Homo sapiens: one gene and its partners. The protein of the gene in region 4 interacts with the protein of the main gene of each other region in a pairwise test. Each region holds a gene or a part of one and is shown on either strand. Other genes may lie near its edges.

Evidence for each region.
Region 1: the proteins of KLK6 (region 4) and TMTC1 interact in binary tests that used the Homo sapiens proteins (3 or more experiments, as listed by UniProt).
Region 2: the proteins of KLK6 (region 4) and ARFGAP3 interact in binary tests that used the Homo sapiens proteins (3 or more experiments, as listed by UniProt).
Region 3: the proteins of KLK6 (region 4) and RBFOX1 interact in binary tests that used the Homo sapiens proteins (3 or more experiments, as listed by UniProt).

The regions. Positions count from the first base shown.
Region 1 is NC_000012.12:29,773,917-29,780,942, forward strand, and holds part of TMTC1 (protein O-mannosyl-transferase TMTC1), read right to left. Parts: intron 1-7,026. UniProt on the Homo sapiens protein: Transfers mannosyl residues to the hydroxyl group of serine or threonine residues.
Region 2 is NC_000022.11:42,805,249-42,812,274, forward strand, and holds part of ARFGAP3 (ADP-ribosylation factor GTPase-activating protein 3), read right to left. Parts: intron 5,697-7,026; coding exon 5,565-5,696; intron 3,643-5,564; coding exon 3,519-3,642; intron 1,916-3,518; coding exon 1,825-1,915; intron 1-1,824.
Region 3 is NC_000016.10:6,014,961-6,022,043, forward strand, and holds the start of RBFOX1 (RNA binding protein fox-1 homolog 1), read left to right. Parts: upstream 1-4,063; 5' UTR 4,064-4,938; coding exon of another isoform or gene 4,939-4,941; 5' UTR 4,942-5,032; intron 5,033-7,083. UniProt on the Homo sapiens protein: RNA-binding protein that regulates alternative splicing events by binding to 5'-UGCAUGU-3' elements. Regulates alternative splicing of tissue-specific exons and of differentially spliced exons during erythropoiesis.
Region 4 is NC_000019.10:50,959,571-50,966,596, forward strand, and holds part of KLK6 (kallikrein-6 isoform A preproprotein), read right to left. Parts: intron 4,941-7,026; exon of another isoform or gene 4,858-4,940; intron 4,097-4,857; exon of another isoform or gene 3,986-4,096; intron 3,980-3,985; coding exon 3,732-3,979; intron 2,311-3,731; coding exon 2,174-2,310; intron 1-2,173. UniProt on the Homo sapiens protein: Serine protease which exhibits a preference for Arg over Lys in the substrate P1 position and for Ser or Pro in the P2 position.

The DNA of each region.
Region 1 (7,026 bases), on a different chromosome or scaffold from region 4:
CACCAAAGAGCTTCTCGAAGTTGCAGGTGCTCCTTCACCAATGTAATTCTCAATGCCTCAAAAAAGGGAAAGTCATCTGGCCCTCTCTGGGAATACAGTGGAGACATGAGTGTGTGTGTGTGTGTGTGCAGGTGGCATGTGATAAACGCATGCCAGCATTCCTATCTCAATAAGCCTTTGCGTTCCTTTCTCTACATTATGCCAGGGAGATTTTAGCATCTCAACCTCATTAAACATGGGCCCCCATGAGTCCCAGTGGTTCTCAACTGTCTTAATCATCTGGTGTGGTAGCTACAATTGTTGATTCTCCGATCCCATCCCAAGATATTCCAAGGCAGCAGATCTAAACTAGGGCCCAGAGATCGGCCCCCAAGCAACCCAGGTGATTCAAAGTCAGGTGATACTCAGAACAATGAGAGACAGGTTTCAAAGCTTAAGGGAAGGCTGCTAGTATTGCCCAGCTTTCCAGAAAAGCCCAGATTTCTCAGCAGTAACACAAAGAATAGAGTACATTCTTTTCCAAAGAAATACAAACCAGGGAAAACCAAAAATTAAAAGTAACCCTTTATTATCTGTTTCTGGTGTCTCCAGTGTTGGGTTCTCCAACACTTTCAGCATGGGTTTCCACAGCCCAATGCTAAGCACACAGCACATTCTCCTGTATTCCTCTATTACTGTTCATCTTTCTTTTTCCCAACCTCTTGCCATCATTACAGATCTCAAATGCTTATAAGAGGTTTCCATAGTCTTCTTAGATCATTCAACCAATAAATAACAACATCTGGTTCTTCTCATTTCTCCTCTAAGGCAAAAATCCCTTTGGCCCTCAATCATTTTGGTTGCTCTTCTTCTGCATTCCCTTCAGTACCAGGAATAAATCAGCAAATCATTATTGCTTAATGTATCTGAAGTACAAAATGATGTAGCTCCCAGGCACCAATGCAAACAACAGTCCAGAGGGGAGATTGATACTCTGCAGCTGAAGCAAAATTCATGGCTTTGATTTGAGTTCAAGGCATCACATCCTTATCTGGCTATGAGGAAGCTGCCCCACAGGAAAGCTGCCCCATGGGAAGGGAGGTTATTGTCACTGTTACATTAGTACTAGAGTAATAGTACAGTTATTAGAGTAATAACTGTACTAAAGAAAGGGTAAGAAAACTGAAGGCAGGAAGATCAGTAAATATATCTGGAAGGTAGCAAGTCCCGGAAGAAAATCCTCAAAAAGAGAGCCAGCAAATAATAAAAATTATGACAGACCAAGGCCAAATATTTTAGTTTTAACTGAGCTGTCAATTTTTAGCATTTTTTTTTAAATGTGTGTTTGGTGTTTGGTGGAGTGCCTGATTGTAATGCAGTTCTGACATCAACTTCCCAGAATTAACAAAAACTCCCAGTTGAGGGCAAAGTCGTCCACAAAACTCCTCACACTTCAGACATCAGCCACAAGTTCCTCAGGCCACCAGTACTTCTGACCAACTGGCTACATAATCAGGGCCTCCCACAACTCCCTCAGGTTCGATCATTCATTAGAACAACTCAGAGAAATCGAGTAACCCCTATACTTATGGCTATAGTTTTCTTATAAAGGATACAAGTCAGGACCAATCAAAGGAAGAAACCTACGGGACAAGGTCCAGGAGGGCCCTGAGCATAAATGTTCTATTTCTTCAGGATGCTTCACCCTCCTAGCACATCAAGGTATGATTACCTACCAGGGAAGTTCAAGCAAACTTCAGTGTCCAGAGTTTTTATTGGGGGTCCCAGTATGTAGGCACAATTGATTGAAATCACTGACCACACAACAATTCAATTTTCAGCCCCTCTTCCCTCCTAGGAGGTTGAGATATAGGAGTGATATCACATGCCTCACAGCCCCAACCCTCTAATCATATAATTGGTCTTTACACCACAGCCAGCCCTCACCCTATAACCATCTAGGAGCCCACCATGAGTCAACTCCTCCTTAGCATAAACTTAGGTGTGATCCCAGGAGTCCATCATGAATAATAAAGAAACTCCTCTCACTTGGGAAATTCCAAGGGATCAGAAGTTTCCTCCCAAGAATCCAGCACGAAGACCAGAAAAAAATCACTGTCATGTTAGTTTCTCTGATAACATATTTTCAGGTACTTGTACTCCATTTGATCCAACAAGGCCATTCCTTATAGAAAGCATAGGCATGGATGAATCTTAGGAACCTGAGATTGGAGTGTAGTGAGAACCCCCTATAATTCTGGGTTTTGAAGGTACAGCTGCTGTTTCTCACCTTGAACTTTGCAGCAAGCATCCACCAACCATTTGTGCTGCAACCTGCCACCTAAGAAGAGTAAGATCCAAAAGCGCTACAGATCTTCATTCTCTACACAGAGTTACAGTTCCAGCAAGTTCCAATAGAAATTCAAAGTCATCCCTTTCAGAATCTCTCAGTAAACAGAACCCATTGGTATCCTCTGTATACATCTGAGGAAATTCCTAGTCTGCCTCCACTTTTCTCTTTGAGAAAGAAAGAACAAAGGTAAATTAGTGAAAAAGTAAACCAAGCAGACTTTTTCTCTACATTATAATCATGTAGCCTTACCTTAGTATTTACCTGAAAAATCTGAGCAGTCACAAAAAGGATTTATTCATTCTTTAAAAAATTAATTCATTTTTAATTGACAAATAATATTCCTTCTTTCAATGATAAATCTTGAGTCCCTACTTTGCAAGCCAGGCTTAGTTGTAGGTGCTAGAGATAAACCTCATGGAGTTTACACTGTAGTGAGGGGAGGTAAAACTCAACAAAGCAGGGTAAGGAAATAAGGGTAAAAAAACACAGAGGAGTGTTTGCTACTTTGATCACCTGGCCACCAGGGAAGGCCTCCGGGATGAAGTGACATTTAGGCAGAAACCAAAGGTGGTGAGCACATAAGCCCTGCACAGATCTGGGGAAAAGCATTCAGGAGGAACCACCAATACATGCAAGGCCTTTGGTAGCAGTGGGTTTGGCCTGTGCAAAGAACAAGGGCTCTGGAATGCTGGTGCAGAGAATGAGGTGGAGATTGGTAGACTAGGGATCAGAGAGGTAGCCAGGGGTCAGATCAAACAGGACTTCATAGAAAAGAAACAGTATCTTATTATTTGGGAAAGAAACACTGCCATTGTGTGGGCATGATCAGGCATTCCTTACCCCCCTCTCTCTCTTTTTATTTTTTTTAACAGAGTCTCGCTCTGTTGCCAGGCTGGAGTGCGGTGGTGCAATCTCGGCTCACTGAAACCTCTGCCTCCCAGGTTCGAGCAATTCTCCTGCCTCAGCCTCCCGAGCAGCTGGGACTACAGGTGCACACCACCATGCCCAGCTAATTTTTGTATTTTTAGTAGAGATGGGGTTTCACCATGTTGGCCAGGATGGGTTTGATCTCTTGACTTAGTGATCCGCCCGCCTCAGTCTCCCAAAGTGCTGGAATTACAGGGCATGAGCCACCGTGCCCGACCTCCTTACCCCTCTCTTTAAGTGAGATGATGACATACTCAAAGTTAGGAAAAATATGAATGTAGCTCCAAAGAAAGACAGAAAAGACATTGGTTGGTAATAATAGACTGCTTCGGAAGGTGATTTCCAAGCCTTGATTCAGGGACTCACCTATAAAAACCCTCATGAGTCCAAAAATATATTCCTCTCACTTTCTGTCCCTCCTACACTACCAGACTGTAGTCTATAAAGTATATCCTACTAGATTATAATCACAACCTCCACCTCTTGGAGCTTCCAAGATAACCTTAGGGTGGCATAAAATTTTCAAAGGCAGTTTTTCATTTTTCTTTATAAAATTTTTCTTGCCTCCAATCACATTTTCCCTTGGTTATTTCTGTCACTGAACATCCTAGACAATCTAGTCAAACATCCTAGAGAATCTTCACTTGTGTCCTATGATAGACTTAGAAAACAAACTTATCAGCCTTGTGGCAACAGGCTGTGTCAAAATGAAATCCCACAGAAGTTGAATGAAAAGGAATAGAAACAAAAGAAACATATCACCGTTTCTTTAAGGTTGTGGGCATGGAGGTTAGCTAGTGCTTATTTTCATGGTTGGCATACTATTTGTAACTAAAAGATGCAAACTACTGCAAAAAACCTTCAAGATCAAACATTAAAATGCTGTAAATTCCTACAGCTGCACATATTAAGATAGTCTATTTTTTGGCTCTGACATTTTAAACCACCCACTTTCACTCTTATGGTTTATATTACCATCAGAAGCTCTTAATAAAATAAAGCATTATAGCAAATATAATCTAATAGGCTAAACACACAGAGAAAGAATCAGGATTTTAAAGTCCTTTCATTTGCTTAGTTTCCCCATCTTTAACATTAAAAAATCATTGGTTCTTGCTTGTTGAAGCAGACTTCCACCTGCTTACTGAATGGAATGGCACTGCGAACAATTCAGCAGTATCTTCTTCCCAAGAGAAGGGTTGGGATAAAATTAAAAAGCTAAGTTTATTTTAAACCATTCTGGACCATTTTTCAAGGGAGGGGTTATGGACATCATAGAGTTTGGTTCTGTGTCAATTCACCCTCTACAGAGTAGCTTAATGCATTTCTCTTGATTTCAGGCTTACAAACAGGTCATGGCCAGGGAAGGAAAAAGAAGCAAAAAAAAAATGTTATTGCTGCAGAGTCACAGATGTTTTGATTCTGTACCACTATGGTCCAAAAATATTCTTGCATGCCCTTGGGCATGATCTTATGAAAAGACTGAATCTGAGATTTGACTGGAAACAGAAATTCATTGTAATTCTAAATTCACTTCAAGGAACACAAAGAGATGGTCATTTGTATCAGTTAGGGTTAGACTAGAAAACCAGAGCCACCATGAGTGATTCAGAAGAAGGGATGTACTATGGGGATCTGACCTTTTACTATTGCTGGGGCTGGTTAAATAGCCTATGTAAGTGTGATGCTTCTGTGTCTATTATCCAAGTTGAAAGCCAGCAGGGCAGCAGGGCCATTCTGGAAGAGAGGGTGAATGGACTTGAAGTAGGGGGAAGCAAAGGCAAAATGGAACCCACAAGGATGAGCTAAAATACATGTCTGTTTTCCACTGCCTTTAAGGCTCCAACTTTAACAATGCAAGAGGCTTGCAAAAAGACTGGCACTCTTCCCTGCAGAGCTGCATACACACCTGCACCATGATTCCAAGTAGCTGAAAGACGAGATCTGGAGAGCACTGGAGGAGCTGAGGGCCTGGGTGCTGCTGCAAACCAACAGCATGTTCACCAACATTTCTGTGACAAACTGCAAGAGGCCTGGCAGCAACAAAACCTATGCCAACATTCTGAATGTGATCTTAGCCACTTCACTTTCACCTTCCAAATCTTGCAGAAATTTTTCTTATGGTCAGCCCTAACCCAGATCATCTTGCAAAGGCAATTCCAAGAAACATAGTCCCAACTTAGCTAAAGTGACATAGTGCAAAGCCACCACATCTTGGTAAGCTGCTTTCATATTCCACTGTCCCATCCCCTCAAAACTGGTAGAAGTAGATGGTCTGCAACCCATTTCCTCATTTCAAATTTTAGTTCATTTCTTACTTGAAAAAATACATAATTAGTATCTTTACTACCTAAGCAAGCACTTTTATTATTTATTAGTATACAAGCAACCACCTTTATAGCAAAAAGTATTATGCATCTATAAATTACATTTATTCTTAAGGAAATTTCTAGCTCTCAGTATGCGTAAGATACATTCAATGAATCAAAAATCAACTTACATTTTAATAAAAAATATGTTTGGAGTATTGCACTGAGAAAGGTCCTGTGAGGAGGACAAAAAGACAAGCTACAGAGTGGGAGAAAATATTTACCAATCACATACTTGACAAAGTACATGTATCTAGAATATATAAAGAACTTCAATACTCAACATTTAAAAAAAACACTTAAAAATGGACAAAAGACACAAAGGCACATTTACCAAACTCTTTGGTTTAATATCAGATGTTCAATAGCTTCACCCATTAGGGAATGGTAAATTAATGAGGTACATATATAGGTGTGATATCACTACATACCTATCAAAATGGCTACAGTAAAAAACAGCAACAATACAAAGTGCTGGCAGAAATGCACAGAAACTGGATTACTCAGACACTGCGGCTAGGAACATCTGGAAAACAGTATGGCAGCTTCATATAAAGCATATGAACATGCAGCCACCATATGGCCCAGCAATTGGACTCCTGGGCATTTAGAACAGAGAAATAAAAATCTATGTTTACATAAAAACCTGTAAGTGAATTTTTATAGCAGCTTTATCCCAGCCAAAAGTTGGAAACAACCTAGATGTCCCCAACAGGTGAATGGTTATACAAACTGTGGTATATCCATACAATGGAATACAACTCAGCAATAAAAAGGAACAAACTATGGATACATGCAACAGCCTGAATGAAGATCCAGAGACATGCTGAGTGCAAGAAGCCAATCTCAACAGGTTACATACTATGTGATTCCATTTATACAACAGTATTAAAATGGCAAAATGATAATGGAGAACAGATTCATGGTTGTTATGGATTTGGGTGAGGGGATTATGGATTAGGCAGTTGTTATAGATTAGGTGTCCATGATTGCAATAAAGAAGTACTGAGGATCCTTGGGATGGAATTGTTCCGTATCTTGACTGTGGAGGTACTCTCTGAAATCTACACATATGATAAAGCTGCATAAAACTAAATACACACTTAGTAAAATAAAAAAAATAGAAGTACATATAAAATGGGTGAAATCTGACTAAATGCTGTAGATTGCATCAATATCAATTTCCTGGTTGTAATATTATACCATAATAATACAGGATGTTACCATTGGGGGAAATGGATAGAGTAGAAGGAATCTCTCTATTATTACTTAAAACTGCATGGGAATGCACAATTACATTAAAAAAGTTTTTAAAACGGGTTTGAAATCTCAAAGTTTTTGCTCAAACAAGCATAATTTAAGATACAGTTAAAATGGTTTGCACATATTTAAAGGGCC
Region 2 (7,026 bases), on a different chromosome or scaffold from region 4:
AAACACAGGCTGCCACTATTTTTGTTCAGTAACTGGAAAGGCTGCTCTCATTTGATCTCCAAATATTTTTTTAAAAAAACAAACAGTGCTTCAGAGTAAAACTTCTATTGATTTAAATTACAAAGGCATCCATTGCAGGGAGTCAGGGGACTGAACAATGCAGGTCTCTGGACCGGCTGCTGGCTGTGCCAGGGCCCCTACAAGGCGACCCAGCACTGACCTGTGGGGCTGCTGGAGGTCTCCAAAGGTGGCCGGAGTGCCTCTCTGCCAGGGGTGGTCACAAAAGGAAGTTGCCCTGACAACAGGCCAGGACACTGAAAGTTTGGAGATGGAACAAGCCAATGAGCCTCACCTGCCCCCACCAAGACTCACTGCCAGGAAATGCCCAGTCAGCAAGTAACTGACTGCCCAAGGGAAACGAGGCCCCTCTGCTCAAGTCTGGGGTGAGGCACAGGGTGTGCTCCTGACCAAAGAGTGGCTCAGGGGAGCCGTGGCCCTGGCTGCGCACCCCCAGGCACCCTCACACTCTCACTGGCAGCGGATGTGCCGGGGCTTGTCCACTCTGGCCCTGGCCTCTGGCTCCTTGGGCTGCCTGGCTCTCTGCCAGCTGCTCTGCCAACACAACCCTTGTCTCACTTGCTGCCACCTGGCTAGGACTCTCCCTCCACTGCAGCACAGCAACTTGGCAGTGCCCACTGCACCCCGAGGGCCACAGTGTGTCTCTATAACATCCCCAAACCACAACCCAGAATGTCCGACACTCAGACCTCTCTCGAGCTGTTTCTCTTTGGACTCTGAAAACAGCTGTTCTCTGTGGCTGTAAGGCCAAGTGATAGCCTAGGTTGGTCACTTAGAGCCACAGCCAGCTCCTCTAGGCCTAGGGATGCTGAGGGTGCCAGGCTTGGAATGCCTGGCTCCTGAGAGTCATCCCTCCCCTTGGCTCTCCTGCTGATAAATGGCTTCCTGAAATGACCTCAGAGGACGCTGCCCCTTTCACGTTAACCACAGGGCCCCTCCTCCCCACTGTGGCCTGGCAGAGGCCTTTGTAGGGTACTCTCACAAGGCATCCCTCAGTCAGGGGGAGGGGAAGTCGAAGCAGAGGGGCCGGCGCTCTGAGGCCCACCACTGGGCTCACAGGCCGCCCCATCCTAGGCCATCCCAGCCCTGGGAGGACCAGACACCTCCTCGCTGGGGTCTGAACCCTGAAGAGGGATATGGGAGACAGGCAATTCCTCTCCACCTGCTCACTCCCAAAGCTGTGTTCTGTCTTCCCCAGAAGACAGATGCTGTTAGAGCCACATGTTTCTATCTGCCTCTGCCCACCCCTGGGGCCTGCTGTGTGCCAGACACTTGGTGGCACTTCACATTGCTCATTTAAGCCGCATGACAACCTTGTGAGGTGGTTTTATCCACCCCCGTTACAGAGGAGGAGACTGAGGCTAAAGACACCATGACATCCTCAAGGGCTCACAGCTAGAGGGTGGTGAGGATCACACGGGAGCCCGGCGCTGTCCACCTCTAAGGCTAAGATAGCACATGGTATTTCATAGCACAGCCGCACTCAGCTAGAAAACACTCCTCTATGACAGTGTTCAGAAGGATGACTTGCCAGGCAATGATGGGATGTTGCTTTAATTTCATGACTTGGTCTCCTTACGTGTGAAGCCTGGAATAGTAACTTCTGCTCTACCTGACTTATAGCAGAGATCAGAGCATCGAATAATGGTTGCTAAAATATCTTGGAAAAGGAAACAGTCCTATCCAGATGAAATGTGTTCATACCGTAGACATGACAGAGACCAGCTCTTGTTCAGTGCCCCCTACCTGCTGGCTGCTTCCTCGGCTCCTCGAACAGATCAGCCGAGCTTATGGAGGAACTTGCCGACAGCCTCTCTAGGCGGGCCCTGGTCTCATACTAGAGAAGACAAGGAAAAGGAAATGTTAGGCTCCAAAGATTGTGGGCAGTTTTGCAAAAAGAATCACTGAAGAGCTGTCATTTGAAAGTGTTTGACCCCCAGGCTCTTTCTTTCCAACAGTTACTGAATGCCACTGCCAAGGCCAGGTCCTGCGGGACAGCACAAAGCTCATGTTCTGCATGGGAGGCAGGTCACAGGCAGACTGATCAACATACAACACCTCAGCCACGATGGCCAGTGCGGAGGCCGTCGGAGTGAGGGAGGGAGAGCGGCATCTCTCTCCTGGTGCTGCTTCTAGCCAGCTGTCAGCAAAGGCCACTCTAAGAGTCTCTTTTCCAAGCCCCATGACACTATTTTAAAACTGAACTTGAATGTCAACTTTGAAGCAAGGCAGATTTTATGGACTGTGGGAACAGCAAGGGGCAATTCTACTTTCGAAATGATGGCGAAATGTTACACTTGCAGAAGTTTAAATTTCTGCAAAATACATTCAGCACATTTTAGGAAACCATCATCCAAATAGTCAGAGGCACACTAGCAATTCAGGATGAGAGGAAAGACGTAAACCTCCCCACTTCCACTTGAGTCTTACAGCTTAGCAAGACTTCACTATGATGAGTTCATTAACATTTCTTTCTTTTTTTTTTTTTTGAGACAGAGTCTCACTCTGCTTCTGGGTTCGAGCGATTCTCTGCCTCAGCCTCCCAAGTAGCTGGACTAGAAGCGCGTACCACCATACCGAGCTAATTTTTGTATTTTTTGTAGAGACGGAGTTTCATCATGTTGGCCAGGCTGGTCTCGAACTCCTGGCCTCAAGTGATCCACCTGCCTCAGCCTCCCAAAGTGCTAGGATTATAGGTGTGAGCCACAGTGCCTGGCCAAGTTCATTAACATTTCTGAGAAAAGCCAACAACCTGAAAATAAATATATGCACTCCTCAGAAACATATCTGGCTGGGCGTGGTGGCTCACGCCTGTAATACCAGCACTTTGGGAGGCCGAGGCAGCCAGATCACCTGAGGTCAGGAGTTCAAGACCAGCCTAGCCAATATGGTGAAACCTCATCTCTACTAAAAATACAAAAATTAGCCAGGTGTAGTGGTGCACGGCCGTATTCCCAGCTACTTGGGAGGCTGAGGCAGGAAAATCGCTTAAACTTGGGAGGCGGAGGTTGCAGTAAGCTGAAATCATGCCACTGCACTCCAGCCTGGGTGACAGAAGGAGGCTCCGTCTCAAAAAAAAAAAAAGAAACATATCTATGTGCTTCATTTCACTATGTTTAAAAGTTATTAAGTAAATTACAGCTGCACCAACAATTGAAATATATTCAAAAGATACTGGATAATGGCTATTCAAAACACCAAGAGAGGAATAAGACAACTGTGAGATAAGTCCTTGTCTTGTAAACATTCCTCTTGCTGAGGTAGCAAGCACATGATCAGTTATACAGACCTGGGTTCAAGTCCTGACTCCAGCACTTTCAGGCCAGAGGGCATCTGGCAGCCTGAGCCCAGCTCACTCAGGATCTCCTCCCCGACAATGCCCACACCCACACTTCCTTCCTGCATTATGGGGCACCCAAAGAAACTCTCTGGACCCTTACATCAGCCTGGGATTGTCTTCCAAAATACATATCTGATGAAATGGCCTTGACATTGCCAAACTTCTTCTGGGCCTCATCTGTATTTTCAACTGGCTCATAATCTGGCTTGCGGCGAGCAGTAGGTCTGCAATTAAAAACAGCCAAATTAGGTTAAACTAATTTGAGGTGAAGCAAATGTGTTTCATACTCATTTTATTTTTTAAAATGCCAACAGCAGTAAATTTTGTAAAAGGATTTTAGGCTGTTTTTAAAAGCCTGAAAATTCTAATTAAAAAAAAAAGAATAAATACCCAAACGATACAAAATTTGAAGGAATTTCTGTTTAAAACGGGGTCTGTTATTTCACATTTCAGTTCAAATATGTTATATCACATTTCAGATCAACTGGGTAAACACTGAATACATTGTTTGGAATGTCCATAGGACACTGCTCTCTCTACATTGTATAGGTTATAAAATGTCCCAGTTACCTGGGACAATTTCAAGTCACACCTGTTGTCCCAACATATTAGTAGTACCCCCTTGCACTCTCAGAAGTCCTCTGGTTGGAAAATAAATTCATTCATAATCACCAAAAACTGGAGACAGCCCTTCAGCAGGTGAATGGATAAACTTGGCAAGTAAGAGGAATGAATACAAGAATGAATGAGTCTTCCCCAAGTGTACTAAGACAAGTTAAACCAGAGTAGGAAGGCCAATTGCTACATGACTCCATTTATATGATATCTGGGAAAGGCAAAATTGTAAGGCCAGAAAACAGACCTGGGGTGACCAGGGGCCAGGGGCAGGGGAGGGGGGACTACAAAGGGCATGGGGAAAATTTGGGGGTGATGGGAACTGTTCTGTTTCTTGGTTTTGGTGGTAATTACATGAATGTATGTGCTTGTCAGAACTGTAAGTTTAAAAAGATGAATTTTACTATATGTAAATAATACCTTAAAATTGGGGGAAAAAAGGCCGGGTGCGGTGGCTCACGCCTGTAATCCCAGCACTGTGGGAGGCCAAGACGGGTGGATCATGAGGTCAGGAGATCGAGACCATCCTTGCTAACATGGTGAAACCCCGTCTCTATTAAAAATACAAAAGAATTAGCCAGGCGTGGTGGCGGGCGCCTGTAGTCCCAGCTACTCGGGAGGCTGAGGCAGGAGAATGGTGTGAACCCAGGAGGCGGAGCTTGCAGTGAGCTGAGATTGCACCACTGCACTCCAGCCTGGGTGACAGAGCAAGACTCCATCTTAAAAAAAAAAAAAAAAAAAAAAAAATTGGGGAAAAAGGTGAAACCTTCCTGACCTAGGCCACCCCTGACCCATGGATCAGAATCTTCAGGGAAGAGGACTCCACACACACATTTCTTTCAAGGTCCACAGAGGATTCTGATGTGCACTTCCTATTTAGAATCAGTAATTTAAAATCAAAACAGGCTGGGCACGGTGGCTCACACCTGTAATCCCAGCAGTTTGGGAGGCCGAGGCAGGCGGATCATTTGAGGTCAGGAGTTTGAGACCAGCCTGGCTGGTGAGGCAACCGTCTCTACTAAAAGTACAAAAATTAGCCTGGCATGATGGTGTGCACCGGTAGTCTCAGCTACTCGGGAGGCTGAGGCAGGAGAATCGCTTGAACCTGGGAGACGGAGGCTGCAGTAAGCTGAGATTGCACCACTGCACTCCAGCCTGGGCAACAGAGTGAGACTCTGTCTCAAAAATAAAACAAAACAAAACAAAAAAACAAAATCAAAACAATATTCCTGAAATAGTAGAACAAAATCATTTACTAGTCTTACAAAAGGTTTCAAAAGGTTTTCCTTTTTGAGGGGGACTTACTCTGTTGACCAGGCTAGAGTACACTGGCGTGATCATAGCTCACTGCAGCCTTGTACTCCTGGGCTCAAGTGATCCTTTGACCTCGGCCTCTTAAAGTGCTGGGATTATGGGAATGAGCCGCCGTGCCCAGCCCCTTACAAGGGTTTTCATGTCATCATGTTATCAGCAATTTTTTCCCAGAAATGCATGGATTCACTACTACAACCCCACAGTTTTGCATTCATACCTGTCTGAATAGCCTGTGGTTTTCAGAACTGTTTCAGTATCTTTGCTGGTCTCTTTTTTCCAATAGGAATCTGAACTGTCATCCCAGCTAGAGAAAGAACTGCTCCTTAACTCCACTGGCTCGTCAAAGTAACTGTAGGAGCAAGAGTACAACAGTGACTTTGGAGGTCCTTGTTGACACTCGTCCTGGGCTCTCTCACTTCCACAGATGTGGGGGATGCCTCCTTGAAGTTAATGGCAGTCACATAACTAGGTCTAGCCAATGAGACAGGAGCAGACACGAGGTGTGTCATTTCCAAGGCCTTTCAAGTACCTGTGTTCAACCTTGCCCAGTCCTCTCTTCCCAAGCTACATGGAAGAGATTGTGTTCCAGGTGCTACAGTCTCAGGTAGGTGAAACCTCCATCAGTCTGGACAATCAAGATGACACATGGAGGACAGGTACTCTAGAGAACCACCTGAACCCTTAGCTGACTTTATGTGAAAAAGAAATCAATTGTCATTGTGTTCAGCCCTTGAGATCTGGGGGATGTTTATAACCTTAGTATAACTTGGCCTATCCAGACAACACAGGGCATCTTTAAATGTTATCTACCACAGGTTACACATTTCACTGTCTTTAGGTCTCATTCCGCCTGGTTAGGCAATCACAAATAACACTGCTGGGCCTAGAGAACTGACTCCATACAAGGAGCTTCTTGTTGGCAATCCCTTCCGTGTTAAGCACATTCAATGAAAATGATGTAAATGATGCTCATTAACCTCCTCCTGGAGTTGGATACAAAGCTATGGATCATGATCACTGGACCATTCTGGGGATAGTCTTTCAGCCTGGAGCCTGCAGTAAACTTGATCTGATTTGCAAGCATCCCAGGAGAGCCTGGCCTTCAGATCAGTTTACACTTTAATTAGCCAATTGTCACTGAGCAGGGCATTGCTCAGAGAGCAGCACTCAGTGTTGGCTTTTGGTCCTGTGTGATTAGAGAAAAATCTTTGACCAAGAGCAGCAAGGTCTGCCTGGAACAGGAGAGACTGACAGGCGAGGTGGATGTGCCAAAACCTTGAGAAAAAGTGACCATCAACCAGCCAGGCACGGTGGCTCACACCTGTAATCCCAGCACTTTGGGAGGCCAAGGCAGGTGGATTGCTTGAGCCTGGGAGTTCCAGACCAGCCTGGGCAACATGGCAAAGCCCCATCTCTACAAAAAATGCAAAATAAAAAATAAATAAACAAATAAAATAACCGTTTCCTGACCATCTCCGGGGATTAAAAGAAAAAATTAATGGGGCATGGTGGCACGCCTATAGTCCCAGCTACTTGGGAGGCTCACCTAAGCCTGGGAGGCCGAGACTGCAGTGAGCCATGATCATGCCACTACACTCCAGCCTGGGTGACAGAGTGGGATACTGTCTCAAAAAAAAAAAAAAAAAAAAAAAGGGACTGTGCCATGCCAGAATTCACGA
Region 3 (7,083 bases), on a different chromosome or scaffold from region 4:
TCCCCCCACCTCAGCCTCCCAAGTAGCTGAGACTACAGGTGCACACCACTACGCCTGGCTAATATTTTAAATTTCTTGTAGAGATGGGGTTTCACAGTGTTTCCCAGGCTGGTCTCAAACTCCTAGGCTCAAGCAGTCTGCCCACTTCAGCCTCCCAGACTGATGGGATTACAGGTATGAGCAAGAGCCACCACCCTCTGGCCTTCTTAGATTTTTAGATCTTAGATTTTTTTAGCTTGCTTTTTTCATCCTTTTCCTATTCTGTTTAATATATCACTGATAATCTCTTAAAAATCCTAGAGTACTCTGGAGTAATCTACAAATCCCTGGAATTCACTGGATGTTTACACTGACCTTCTGGAAAAGTTATTAAACAAATATAAGATAATAATGGAGAAAATGGTCATTGAAACATCAGTGAAGGCAGAGTGAAGCCCAGAGCACTGGCAGTGGAAATCATTATGGTAATGGTGCATCTTGAAAAGCTAACCAGTCACTCTCCACTGCCTGTGGTAAAGCAAATACGCCTTACAAATCATTTCAGAGCCTGCCTTGGGCCTTCCCTAGCCCATATCTTTAGTTCCAGCTTCTACTCTCTTGGCTCTTTCACCATTGTCCAGCCCCTTAACTTCAACAGGACTCTATTTATATTGAACAGATTTGCTGTTCCTAGAAGGAGCTATGCTGTTTTGCTTCAGGCACTTTCATAAGCTGTATTCTCCTTCGGGAATATCCATCACCCAACTCTCTGTGGAATTCCTATTTATCTTCTCTATTTAGACACGATCTTCTCTAGAATGCTTTGCCTGACCTTCTGCCCTTCTGCCATATCTGGCTATAGGCTCCTGCTCCGTATTGGCCAAATGTTTCAAGACAGTTGCAATCACTCATTTATGTGTCTGCATATGCTATTGGACTGTACGCTTCTCGAGTGCAGAAATTGAGTCTAGTTTATATACTAAATGGTTTACATGGGGGACTAGCCTCAAGAAGGATGCATGTTTGATGACTGAAAGAACAAAGGACTACATAAATGGATGAGCAGGTTGACTTCTCATTTCATTCCAAAGTGGTTAGCCCATTTAGACAGCAATCTACTGCAGGAAAGAAGGAAGGTTCACCTATCATTTATTGAGCTTATTATGTGGCTGGTGCTGTGCATCAGGGAACAAATCTTTGATGTAAAGACCTTTTAGTTTAATAGAAGAGAACAACATTTACAGTAAGCTGAGACAAATGACAGGGTAAAGGTAAATGGAGGTGTTAGAGGAGTTCGCAAGAACACCTTATCTGTGCCTATGGGGGGCTGGGTAGGGAGTTGAGGGATTGGCAGGGAGAAAGTGATATTGAAATGGAGATCTAAAAACTAAACAGAAGCTATCCAGGAAAAGAGAGTATGTAAGGGTATTCCTGGTTGGAGGAACAACATATACAAAAGATTGGATACAACAAGAGAAAAGCCCTCCTGGGTCACAGAGTGAACTTAAAAAGAGCCAGGAGCTGGTAAACCACATGGACAACTTTAGACCTTATCCTGGGGAATAATGAAGAGCTATAGGAAGATCCTAAGTTTTAAAGTAAGATGATGAAATTTACACTTTAGAGAGCTCTCAGCCAAGCACAAGGCTACAAAGTCCTTGTTCTTTTTAAACCAGCTTTATGAAAGGTACCATTTTTGACATTTGCTTAGATCACAAATTGGAAAGTATTTTTCATGTCCAGTAGGAGGAGCCAAAGTCTCCAGGTTCTTTCTAACCATAGCAGGGCGATTCTTGGCCCTAGGTTGTCCTGGGAGCTGTCAACTTCAGCACCTCTCATTTATCTTCCAGTGGCTCAACATGGAGAAATGACAGGAAAAACTCTACTTGGAATGCGAAAGGTCATTGTGAGAAAGAAACTAATACTTTCCAAATGAATAGCATAATGGCATGCCATATTGATCTTTACTCTAATTTTGTTTTAAATTGTAATGGATGCCTCTCACACTCATATTCTTAAGCCATGTAGCAATACAGGTACCAGTGAGTCATGCCTGACACTCATCACTAATCTATCTAAGCCTATTTCTACTCTACAATAAATAAATCAGAGCAGACTCAAGCTGAACTTGATTTTCAGATAGATGAATATGTTTTATTTCCAATGGTAAATATATATATGTATTAAAAATAATCAAAGGGCCCAGCAATTACCCATTTTAATGTAACAACAGCTGATGTTACTGCCTTGAATGATTGCATTCATTTGTTCCTTTCTGGAATAAAAAATGAAGGAGAATAGACAAACAATTCCTGTTGGTGAATTTGCACAAAACAGTATATTCCAACAGAATTTCCCGTTAACTGCCATTTATTTCTTCTATCATTATTGATAATTTGCTTTTAAATTGAGAATACCTCTTTTACAACCCATCTCATCTCCCTGCATGGCTAGACAATTACATTTAAATTCGGCGGTTTTCCCATTGTGAACAGTTTCTGGGGGAAATGATTATGATGTTACCAACCCAGATTTATGGTTTCATTTTGCTATCACTGAAGGATGAGACTAGTATAAAGAAAAAAAAATTGCTTACATACAAATATATTATTATCAAAGAGAATCCTAAGGAAACATATGGTAAAAATCAACCCAAATTGCAAAATCGCTGGGACCAATGATAAAGATATCTTTCTGGATTTTGCAAACTTACTTTTTCAAATGATGATTAAATATTGCGTGCTTTAAAAAGTAATATAGTTATAGGCAGAAGTTCCCTTTCTTTTATTCTGAGGTTGAAAGAAACCGCAGCCCGATAGGATTGCAAGAGGAACCCTTAAGGAATCTGCTCCTTGATGGGCGCTAGGAAATACACGTACATCTAGTACAAAGGAATGCACATCACATGGCCCCCTGTTTTGGAAAGCTTACAGCATTTCTTATAAGAGGATCCATGGTATAAGTGCAAACACAGTCACATCACAGGATGGGAAAATGAACAGGCGCCTCAGATCAAGTGCTCAAGGCTGGAATCTGGCCTTGTCCAATGCCACCTGCCCTTCAGAAGGCAGGGTGGTGCCACATAAAATGAGGTAGACTGCCTGGGGAGTCCTGGTTCCTTGCCAGCTATGTGACCTTGAACAAATTACAACTCACTGAACCTCAGACTGACTTTATTGTACAACAAAACCCCCTGGAATATTTGTGGAAAAAAGAGGAAGGGAGAAAGGAAGGAAGGGAGGAAAGGAGGAAGGAAGAAAGGGAGGGAGGAAGGAAGGGAGGGAGGGAAAGGAAAAGGTAGGGGAAGAGCAGAGTTTCTCACTCCAGTCCAGAGTGGGACCCAGGAAGGGAGAAATATTGCTTTAATCTCTCTAAGCATCTGTGAAATGGATAAACCTCCAGTATCTACTTCCAGTTGTTGAAAAGACTCCATGTAAAGTGCTTAAAACAGCATCTGGTGGAAAGTAAATGCTTATTAAGTGCTAGTGTGTATTAAGGCGTCATGGGGCTTCTGGCTGTAAGACATCTGCTAGGAGGACAATCCCTAGACCCCTTCAGCGTCCATTGCGGGAGTAGGTGGCCAGGAAGGGGGCAGGACAGGAGAGGCCCAGCTGTGCGGGGTGGGGGCGTCCCAGGCCAGCCGCACCCACCCCAGCCCTGCATCCCATCCAGCCTGGAGAACTTTTTGAATCTTGGATAGGGCTCGATCTCTGCCTGGCCGGAAGATTTGAAGACTTGCCAGAAAACTTCCTCAGAGAAGAAATGGACTGGGGCAAGAAGCTGCCTCCACTTGGCGTCTCTAGTGGGGGATTTGTCTACTTTGATTGGGGTTGGGAGGAGGGCGCTGGTGCTCAATGAGTGAGCCCACCTGGGGACTACCAGGACGAGGACGGGCGCAGGTGAAAGTCCTGGGCTCATTGCCCCAGCATCCAACTTTCACCCTCTGTCCCCTTTAGGCCAGGAGACCAGGGTACCGGGTCGCGTGTCCGCCGCCGCCGCCCGCTGGAATCCAGGGCTGCACGCGTGACCGCGGCGGCGGCGGCGCTGGCGAGGGGAAGGGGGAGGGGGCGCTCCCTCGCGCACCAGATTATTTTTGGCTCCGCAGCCGGGGCTGCTCGCTGCTTGTCGCGCGCTCACACACACACAGACACACACGCACACACACACATGCACACATTTTCTCGCGCTCTCTCCGGCTCTCCTTTGTTTATTTTCTAATCTATATTTTTACTGGAAGATTTCCTCTTTATTCTCTCCCGCCCTCCTACAAGCGCTCTTGCTGGCCGTCTGGGTGCACACACCGCTCCCTCGATCACCCCAGCCCCCTTCCTGGTCTCCCGAGCGCGGGGTTTGAAGGTCACCTCCTTTCCAGTCCCCGTGCGAGCCGCGCTGCCGCCGCCTCCTCCAGCCAGAGTCGGTGGGACTGGCTGCGCTGCCCTGAAGTGGTTCTCCAAGCAGCGCGGAGGGTGGCGGACGGCGGACGGAGCCCAGGGGCCGCGTCGGGTGGGGAAACCCGAACTCGCGGAGGGGAATCCCTCCCCCTCCGCCCCAGCCCCCCAGCAGCACCCGCGGTGGGGCGGGGGCGCTCTGCCAGCCCCGGGAACAGCAGAGGCGGCGGCACTGGCTGGACCCACGCGCGCGCCTCCGGGGCTGAAGAAGGAAGGAGTGAGCCGAGCCGAGCACCCCACATCTGGAGGGGACAGCCAGCCGTGGGCCCCGCCCCGGCGTCCGGAGCAGGAGAACTCCGAGCTTCTTGCCCAGGCAGAGAGAGCAGGAGCGGACCGCGCGCCCGGGATTGAGAGTCCTTGCGCTCCAGACCCCCACCCAGTGGCCGCCAGGGTCCCCGCCTGTCCGGACCCTCGCCGCGCCCAGGCAGGCGCGCCAGGGCGGGGCTGACCTGCCCGCGAAGTTGCGGACAGTGCGTGAGAAACCAGCACCCCCTTCCGCCGCCTCCAGCTTATGGTGAGTGTGGCTGGGGGTGCAGAGAGCGCACGGGAATTCGGGGGTCTGGGGCCGAGAACGTGACCGCAGCCGGGCTCGCCGGGAGTTCTAGGTAAGTCCAGGCGGAGTCATTGCCTCTGCACCCACCCTGACCTGGTGGGTCAGGTCCAGAAGGTCTCATGGAGGGAAGCGCTAGGTCCCCGAGAACTGGCCTCCTCCTAGCGCCAGTCTGGGCGCTCTGGACGGGAACTTTTTCAGGGTGTGTGGAAAGATCTCGAGGCGTGTCCCCCCCTACCCCCAGGAGGCCGAGACCCTGAGCCCCCTTGTGCGTCGCTTCCAGAAGCACGTCCTTCCTTGCCCCAGAGCGCCCCTCCGAAGCATCCAGGCTACCTCGTCCGTCCTCCTGGGAGCGAGTCCTAGGTGCCAGGAGCAGCGGGAGCCTGCCTGCGCACTTTGATTAGTCTCCCTGGCCGGCTGCAAGCGTGCACTCAGCGCGCCCCCGGACCGCTGCCTCCGCCCGCAGGGTGTGCAGGAGGAGGCATCTTAGTGACCCGGGAGGGTGTTTAGGTGCCCCGAACCCCTTGTGGGAGGAGGGGAAGAGAAGGCTCACTTATGTGGAGAAAGCGCCGCTGTGTTTACTGGCACTGGAATCGATGCCCCGCGGTGCCACCTCGACCCCAGGGGAGGGGGCCAGCCGGGAAACCTGCGAATGGGAAACTCCTACTGTGCCCCTGGTTCCTGGGAGCCTTAGAGAACCTTCACCCCAGAGAAGGAAACACAGGGGTAGCAGATCTTAGCCCTGTGTTGTTGTGCAGGCCAGGGGGGGGCTTGTCAGCTCCAATCAACCAATTGTCCAGCTATGGAAGCGAGGGCGGGGCTAGTGGGGCGCCGCTCCCATCTCCCCACCGCCCAGGAGGCCACTTGGCTGTGAGCTCCTGGAGCCTCCCTGGCGCCAGCTGCGGGGACCAGGTGTCACGCGGAGCCCGGAAGCTGTCCACTCAGCAAGGGAGGGGAAGACCCCGATCTAACCTTGTCCTGGAGCCCCCAGCTCCATTCCTTGCTGCCAGGGAATGGTCAGGGGGCTGGGAGAGCTCATCGCTCCTGTGTGGGCCAGAGCTGGGGTGCACCTGCTGGCACTGGAACATCTGGGGTGCGGCTACTGAAGAGCTTGGAAATCCTGGTCAGGCAGTCCGGGCAATTGGCACCCCAAAGGCGGATCTTTTCAGTTGAACTTGAAAAGAAGTGGGGGAGTGTGGTGAAATAGCTTTGTTGAGTTGAAACATCATGTCTCCTAACTTGGGTTTTCCTTTATTAGAATAATGATTGTTTATTTTTATTTTTAAACTCCGTTGTGCAGAGAGGCCTGGCCTTGACAGCCCAAGTTTAGGACATGCCCCAGCCTGCCATCCCTTCCCTGCCCCCTGTCCTAGTTCATCTCCCCTCCATTTATCATTTTATCTTTGTTACAAAAGAGAGAAAAAAAAGATGAGAGGGCCTGGATTCTTTCAATTTTTAAGTGACCACAGAGGCCCCGGCTGGAGCTACTGGCAGATTTATTTTTAGCTAAGATCTTTTATGTTCAGAAGCAAAGGACCTGGGGCCTGTGAAGGGTAAAGGTGGTGCTGGCAGTGGCTGTGCTGGTAAAAAGTGGGGCTGACTCAAAACCTGTGTCCTCTTTGAGCTCGTCAGGGAGGCCCTCCGTTTGGAAGAATCCCCTGGGCTTTCCTTAAGTTAGCTTATGGTTGCCTCGGGTTAGGAAGAAAAGTCATCATTCCTCGCGGTAGTGGAAGTGACACCTTAGGGGTCCAGAGAGTGGAGCTTTATGGCTCAGAAGAGCACAGGGCTTCTGGATCCGTTATCTGCCAGCTGTGTGACCTTGGGCAAGTTGCTTTACCTCTCTGAGCTTCGGGTTGTCACCTGTAAAATCAGAGTTTCAGTCGTAGTTCTGTCCTCAGAGGGTTTGGGGGTAAATTACTTAAAGCACTAAACATTTAGAACAGTTTGGCACATGGTAAGTGCCTGAATTCTATGAGTTTTGTTTCTTTATTCTTTCAAGTAGATTCCTCTAATTTTTGAGCCTTGTAGCACCGAGTGGTACAGGAAAGGCAGGTGGCTTGCCTTATACACACACGTTTTCTTTTAAGTAAGGAACAGAAGCCTCAA
Region 4 (7,026 bases):
CCAAGATGCAGAGGAACATAGAGAGCAAGAAAGAGAAACAATTTAAGAATGGAGACTGAGAGGTGTGGAGAGAGGCAGAGGTGTAGAGACCGATGGAGAGAGAGGAGGAGGAAGAGGAGAAGGAGGAGGAAGAGGAGAAGGAGAGGAGGAAGAGGAGGAGGAAGAGGAGGAGGAGGAAGAGGAGGAGGAAGAGGAGAAGGAGGAGGAGGAGGAAGAGGAGGAGGAAGAGGAGAAGGAGGAGGAGGAAGAGGAGGAGGAAGAGGAGAAGAAGGAGGAAGAAGAGGAGGAGGAAGAGGAGGAGGAGGAAGAGGAGGAGGAGGAAGAGGAGGAGGAGAAGGAAGAGGAGGAGAAGAGGAGGAAAAGGAGGAGGAGGAAAAGGGGGAGGAGGAAGAGGAGGAGGAGGAAGAGGAGAACGAGGAGGAGGAAGAGGAGAAGGAAGAGGAGAAGGAGGAGGAGGAGGGGGAAGACGAGGAGGAGGAGGGAGAGGAGGGGGGAGGAGGAGGGGGAGGAGGAGGGGGAGGAGGATGGGGAGGGGGAGGAGGATGGAGAGGGGGAGGAGGATGGGGAGGGGGAGGAGGGGGAGGAGGAGACGATAAGACCCAGGTGGGAGAGGTAGGGAGGGCCCAGGGAGAGATATGCCTGGCACTATTCTGTCCAGGGACACCTCTCCACCTCGTGTCTTGAGGACAGTCTCGCCCACCTGCCCTTTCTTTGCGTCCAACTTGCTATGTATCGCTTTCCCTGTCTCTGTCCCTGTTTCTGCCTGTGTCTCCGTTTCTGCCTGTGTCTCCCCCTTGGTTGGTCTCTGCACATCCCTCAGTGCATTAGTCATTCTGGCATAAAGAGGAGAGCCTGGATGGATGACAATGGAGGAAACCCAAGTTAAAGTATTCGGGAGGGAGTCCCCTTTCCCCAGCTAGTGTCTCCCTCCTCCAGAGCCTGGTCGTTTCTGAGCAGGACTCGTGGGGGCTCTGTTTGAGGAAGGACAGTCCCCTCACACCATCTGCTTCCTTACTACTTCTCTTTGGTTCTTTTTGTTTTTAGACAGAGTCTGGCTCTGTCCCCAGGCTGGAGTGCAGTGGCGTGATCTCAGCTCACTGCAGCCTCTGCCTCCTGGGTTTAAGCAATTCTCCAGCCTCAGCCTCCCGAGTAGCTGGGACTACAGGTGTGTCCCACCATGCTTGCGTAATTTTTGTTTTTTGGTTTTTTTTTGAGACGGAATCTTGCTCTGTTGCCAGGCTGGAGTGCAGTAGCATGATCTCGACTCACTGCAACAACCTCCGCCTCCAGGTTCAAGTGATTCTCCTGCCACAGCCTCCTGAGTAGCTGGGACTACAGGCGCCTGCCACCACGCCCAGCTAATTTTTGTATTTTTAGTAGAGATGAGGTTTCCCCATATCGGCCAGGCTGGTCTCAATCTCTTGACCTGGTTATTCACCCACCTCGGCCTCCCAAGGTGCTGGGATTACAGGCATGAGCCACTGTGCCCATCCTAATTTTTGTATTTTTAGTAGAGATAGGGTTTCACCATGTTGATCAGGCTGGTCTCGAACTCCTGACCCCAGGTGATCCTCCTGCTTCGGCCTCCCAAGGTGCTGGGATTACAGGCATGAGCCACTGTGCCCATCCTAATTTTTGTATTTTTAGTAGAGATAGGGTTTCACCATGTTGATCAGGCTGGTCTCGAACTCCTGACCCCAGGTGATCCTCCTGCTTCGGCCTCCCAAGGTGCTGGGATTACAGGCATGAGCCACTGTGCCCATCCTAATTTTTGTATTTTTAGTAGAGATAGGGTTTCACCATGTTGATCAGGCTGGTCTCGAACTCCTGACCCTAGGTGATCCTCCTGCTTCGGCCTCCCAAAGTGCCGGGATTACAGGCATGAGCCGCTGCTCCTGGCCTCTCTGGTTCTTGATCCCGCGGCCTCCATCCTTGTCTCTGCACTTCCTGTCTCTGCTGGCTGTGTCTTTATATCTCTGCATATCCCTGACTGTGTCTCTGTGTGTTGAACTAAGTCTCTTCTTTTCAAGGCTTGGGTTCTCCCTCAGCCTGTCTCTATCTGTCTCTGTAAAGCTCTCTTTTGGCCTGTGTCTCTCTCTTCCTGTGTCTGGCCATGTTTTTGTGACTTCGTCCTGTCCCTGGCTGTGTAAGTGGCAGATCCGGGTCACCTCACCTGGCAGGAATCCTTCCCGTACTTCTCATCCCCAGCACACAACATGTTCTGGGTGATCTGGCCAGGGTAGGCATGCTCACACTCCTCACGGGACACCAGGTGGATGTATGCACACTGGATGGTGTCAGGGAAATCACCTGTTAGGGGAGAGATGGGCCAGACTCAGCCCAGGCCTTGCACTCCCCTCATCCTCCCCAGTCACCCCCCAACCCCTATAAGTCCTCCATCCTCTATTGGTCCCTCTTTTCTATTGGCACCCCTCTTCCTGTTTGTCTCTCATTCTTACATCTCATTACCATCGTCCCTGCCTCCTAATTGGTCCCTCTTTCTATCATTCTTCCCCCCCATTGGCTGTCTTCCTCATTAATAGTCTCTTCTCCAGGAGTCCTCATTTCCTATTGGTTTTCCTTTTCTCTTAGGTCCCTCCTCCACTTTTCTCTCTTCCACTGGTCCCACCTTCTTCAGTAGTTTCAGTTGACCTGGAGGACTCTTCCTCTGTTACGCCCTCCTCTACTGTACCCCTCCTGATCAGTAGTCCATTCTTCATTGGACACTTCCTGCCCATTGATTCATCTTGATTGGTCACTCTGTGACCATTGGTCTTTTCCTAACTGGCCATGCCCTCTCCCATTGGTTCTTCCTTTCTATTGGTTCTTCATCCAATGGTCCACCTCCATCATTGGTCCTTTTCTAACTGTCCCCACCCTCCCTCATGGATCCTCCCTTTCTATTGGCCCTTCCTCCAATGGTCTACCTTCCTCATTGGTCCTTTCCTAACTGGCCCTGCCCTCCCTCATTGGCTCTCTCTTCCTATTGGTCTGCTTCCCTCCTTGGTCCTTTTCTAACTGGCCTCACCATCCCCCACTGGCTCTCCCTTCCTATTAGCCCTTCATCCAATGGTCCACCTCCCTCATTGGTCCTTTTCTAACTTGCCGCATCCTCCCCCATTGTCTCTGCCTTCCCACTGGCCCTTCATCCAATGGTTCACCTTTCTTATTGGCCCTTCACACACAGGCCCACCTTCATGGATCCTGCTGATCTATTGGACCTGTTTTTTCCTCTAGTGACTCCTCTGGACCATTGATCCTTTCCCCTTAGTCCCTCTTCCATCAGCTATACCCCCATTCACTGTCTCAATTCACATCCTTCAGTTGGCTTTTGTGCTTTATTGGTTTCTCTTCTTCCATCAGTTCCTTCTCCATTATTCCTTCCTGCTGTTCAATGAATCCTGATCAGTCCCCTTTGACCTTTGACATCCTTCCTGATTAGCATCTCCCCACTGACCTTCCCTCTTTATTGAACCTTCATCTTATGTTCCATCTCTCCCATGCTATTCACCCATTGGTCTACATTTTCCATTGGCTGTTCACTCACTGGCCCAGCTCCCAAATTCACTCTCCCTCCCCCTTGACCTTTCTCCCATTGAAACCCTGTCCCATTGGTCCTCACCATTAGCCCATCTTCCCATGGCCCCTCACCAATTTTCCCACTCCCCATCCTTTGGCACACTTCCCCAAGTAGCCAGTAGCCTGCTCCCCACCAGCCTCCCACTACTGACCATCTGCTGTCTTGCCCCAGCCCAGGATGTGGCAGCTGGTGGTGTTGGCTGAGCAGTCCCTCTCCAGGGGAAGGGGCTGGATGAGTTCAGAGAGTTTGGCTGGGCGTGCCAGGCGCAACAGCATGATGTCCTGGTCATGGCTGGCGGCATCATAGTCAGGGTGGATCACAGCCCGGACAACAGAACTCTGCTCCTGGGAACTCTCCCTTTGCCGAAGGTTATGCTTCCCCAGGAAGACCTGAAGATTCCTGGGAAGGAAGAGGGCTGGGTCTCACCTGGAGCCCTTGGGCTGCAGTTGAGGCTTCAGAGAGGGCTGGGAAGTCATGAATCGCTGGCCTGCTCCTCCCACAGTCTTCCCCAGCTGGGTAAATGGCAATTCCATCCTTTCAGAATAATCTTGGGGGCTATTCTTCACTCTCTTTATTTCATGCCCTACATCCAAGCTGTCCAGAATTCCTTTTGCCTCTCTGAAGCATATCCAGAATCTGGCCACATCTCACCTTTCCCACGGCTACCATCTTGGTTTGAGCTGCCTTTTCACTTCCTACCTGAACTAGAGCAGTAGCCTCCTCACTGGGCTCCCTGCTCTGTCTCTGGTCCCCCACAGTCCATCCTCCACAAAGCAACCAGAGATATTTTAACAATGTAAGTTGGTCCTGTGCCTCCTCTGCTCAGCCCCTCCTATGACTCCCATCTCACTCAGAATCAAAGCCAAAGTTCTCAACGTGGCACACCAGGCCTTGCAAGCACTGCCCCATCATCTCACAGACATCTTCTCCTCCCACTCTCCCCTTCTCTCCCTCTGCTCCAGCCAAACGCTGGCTTCCCTGTCTTGCCTTGAACACAATAGTGATCTTCCCACCTCAGGGCCTTTGCACTGCTGTTCCCTCTGCCAGCAAGTCTGTCCTCCAAGTATCTGCATAGCTCACTCCCTCACTTCCTTTAAATGTCGCCTCTCAGGGAAGCCTTCCTTAGTTGCCCAATTAAAATACAAATACCTGTTAGTAGGCAATTCCTATCTCCCTCCCCTGCTTTCTGTTCCACCAGAGAACCTATCACAATCATCCGACCTGCTATATATTTATTGTTAAATATTTACTCATTGTGTTATTTCTCCTCCTTGCAGAGCAATGCTGTCCACTAAATGCTACGATGCCATGATCTCGATCTGCACTGTCCAGAGGTGGCTGGGGGAACCACAAGCTACAGGTGGCTGCTGAGTACTTGAAATGTGGCTTGTGGATTTTCCATTTCATTAATTTCAATGTAATTTGCTATATGTGGCTGATGGCTACCATATTAGACAGTGCAGCTCTAGGATGTCAAGATGGGGATTTTTGTTCTATTCAGATATAGTATCTCCAGTGCGTTGATCAGCACCTGGCACAGGATAGGTGTTTGATACATATTCCTGAAACAGAGAGTCACTCCCTTGCTCAGACATCACCCATGGCTCCCCATTGTCCTAAGAATAAAGCCTGGGCTCCTCCACTTGGCACTGGAGCCCCTGTGTGATCTGGCTGTAGTCACTTTCCAACCTTATCTCCCAGCACCTTCTGCCCCCCAGTGAACGGGAAATTTTATTTTCTGAGAATACTCAAGACGGTTCTCACCTCAGGGGTGTTATCACAGCCTTTCCTCTGCCCTGAACATTCCTTTTCCCATCTTCATGCCTCCGCTTGGATTTTATCTCATTAGAAAGTCCTTCCTGACCCTCCTCCATCTAAAGTAGGTACCCGTATTCTTTTCCTTCATAATTTGTAATTATATGGGGTTTTGAAGGGTTTGCTTCTTTTGTTTGTTTGTTTTTTTGAGACAGGGTCTCGCTCTGTCACCCAGGCTGGATCTGCAGTGGTGTTCTGTAGATCACAGCTCACTGCAGCTTTGTACTCCTGGGCTCGAGTGATCCACCCGCCTCGGCCTCCCAAAGTGCTGGGATTACAGGCATGAGCCACCACGGCCAGCCCAATTTGCTGCTTCTTTCTTTCCTTTTTTTTTTTTTAGACAGAGTCTCGCTCTGTGGTTCAGGCTGGAGTGCAGTGGCGCGATCTCGGCTCACTGCAACCTCCGCCTCCCACGTTCAAGCAATTCTCCTGCCTTAGCCTCCCAAGTTGCTGGAATTACAGAAGCCCACCACCACGCCTGGCTAATTTTTTGTATTTTCAGTAGAGACAGGGTTGAGCCATGTTGGCCAAGCTGGTCTCGAACTCAGGTAATCCACCCACCTCGGCCTCCCAAAGTGCTGGGATTACAGGCGTGAGCCACCATGCCCAGCCCTCACTTTGCTTGTCTGCACCTTTCTGTCCTTGTGCTCCCGAGGGCAGGGATGACGTGTGTGTCCCATCCATTGCTGAATCTCCACTGCCCAACTCGAATGTGGCACTTAGCAGGTGCTCTTAGTCAATGTACATCAAAGGAATGAATGATGGTGGTGAGAGTCATCCAAGGTCTCCTTGGGGTCAGGGGAACCACCCCAGGGATTGTCACTTGCTATTTCCCTGCACCTCAGTTTCCTCATTTGCAAAATGGTGCCAAGAGTCCCTTGTGGTGGGCATTCCAGGAAAGGTGTGTACATGGTTTCACTCAGCACCTGATTGGTAGTTAGCATCAAACAAGTGGCAGCTGTCGTGAATCTGACTAGTGAGGATCAGCGCCCAGGGTTTTTGTCCTGGGCCCTCCAGCTCCTCCAACTATGCCAGCTTTTTGGATGATCTCATCTAGTCCCATGGCTTTAAATACACCTGTTTGCTGACGATGCCTTCATTTTAACCTCCAGCCCTGACCTCTCCTCTGAGCTCCAGAGTCCTCCCTGGCCTCCCTGCTGGGACATCTCCCCGGCATCTCCAACTCATCGTGGCTAAAGCAAAATGTCAGATGCTCCCCTGCCTACACCCGGCCTGTTTCTCTTTCCCTCTCCCACAACTCAGAGAAAGACGTGGCAAAACACCCAGTTGTTCAGGACAAATACACGGAAGCCAGCCGTGCTTCTTCCTCTCCCTCCTGTTCCTCGTTGCCAGATTCTGCTGGCTCAGTCTCAGAATTCCACATCCCAAGATATTCAACATCCCTCCATCCCCACTGCGACCGCCTGGGTTCAAGCCACCCTCCTATGTCGCCGGATGAAAGCAACAGCCCCCACGTGGGCCTCCCTCCCTCTCTCTTGCCCAGACCACGTTCCACGTGGTAGCCAGGGTGCTTGTAAAAATGTAAATCAGGCTGGGTGTGGTGGTGGCTCATGCCTGTAATCCCAGCTCTTTGGGAGGGCGAGGCGGGCGGATCACCTGAGGTCAGGAGT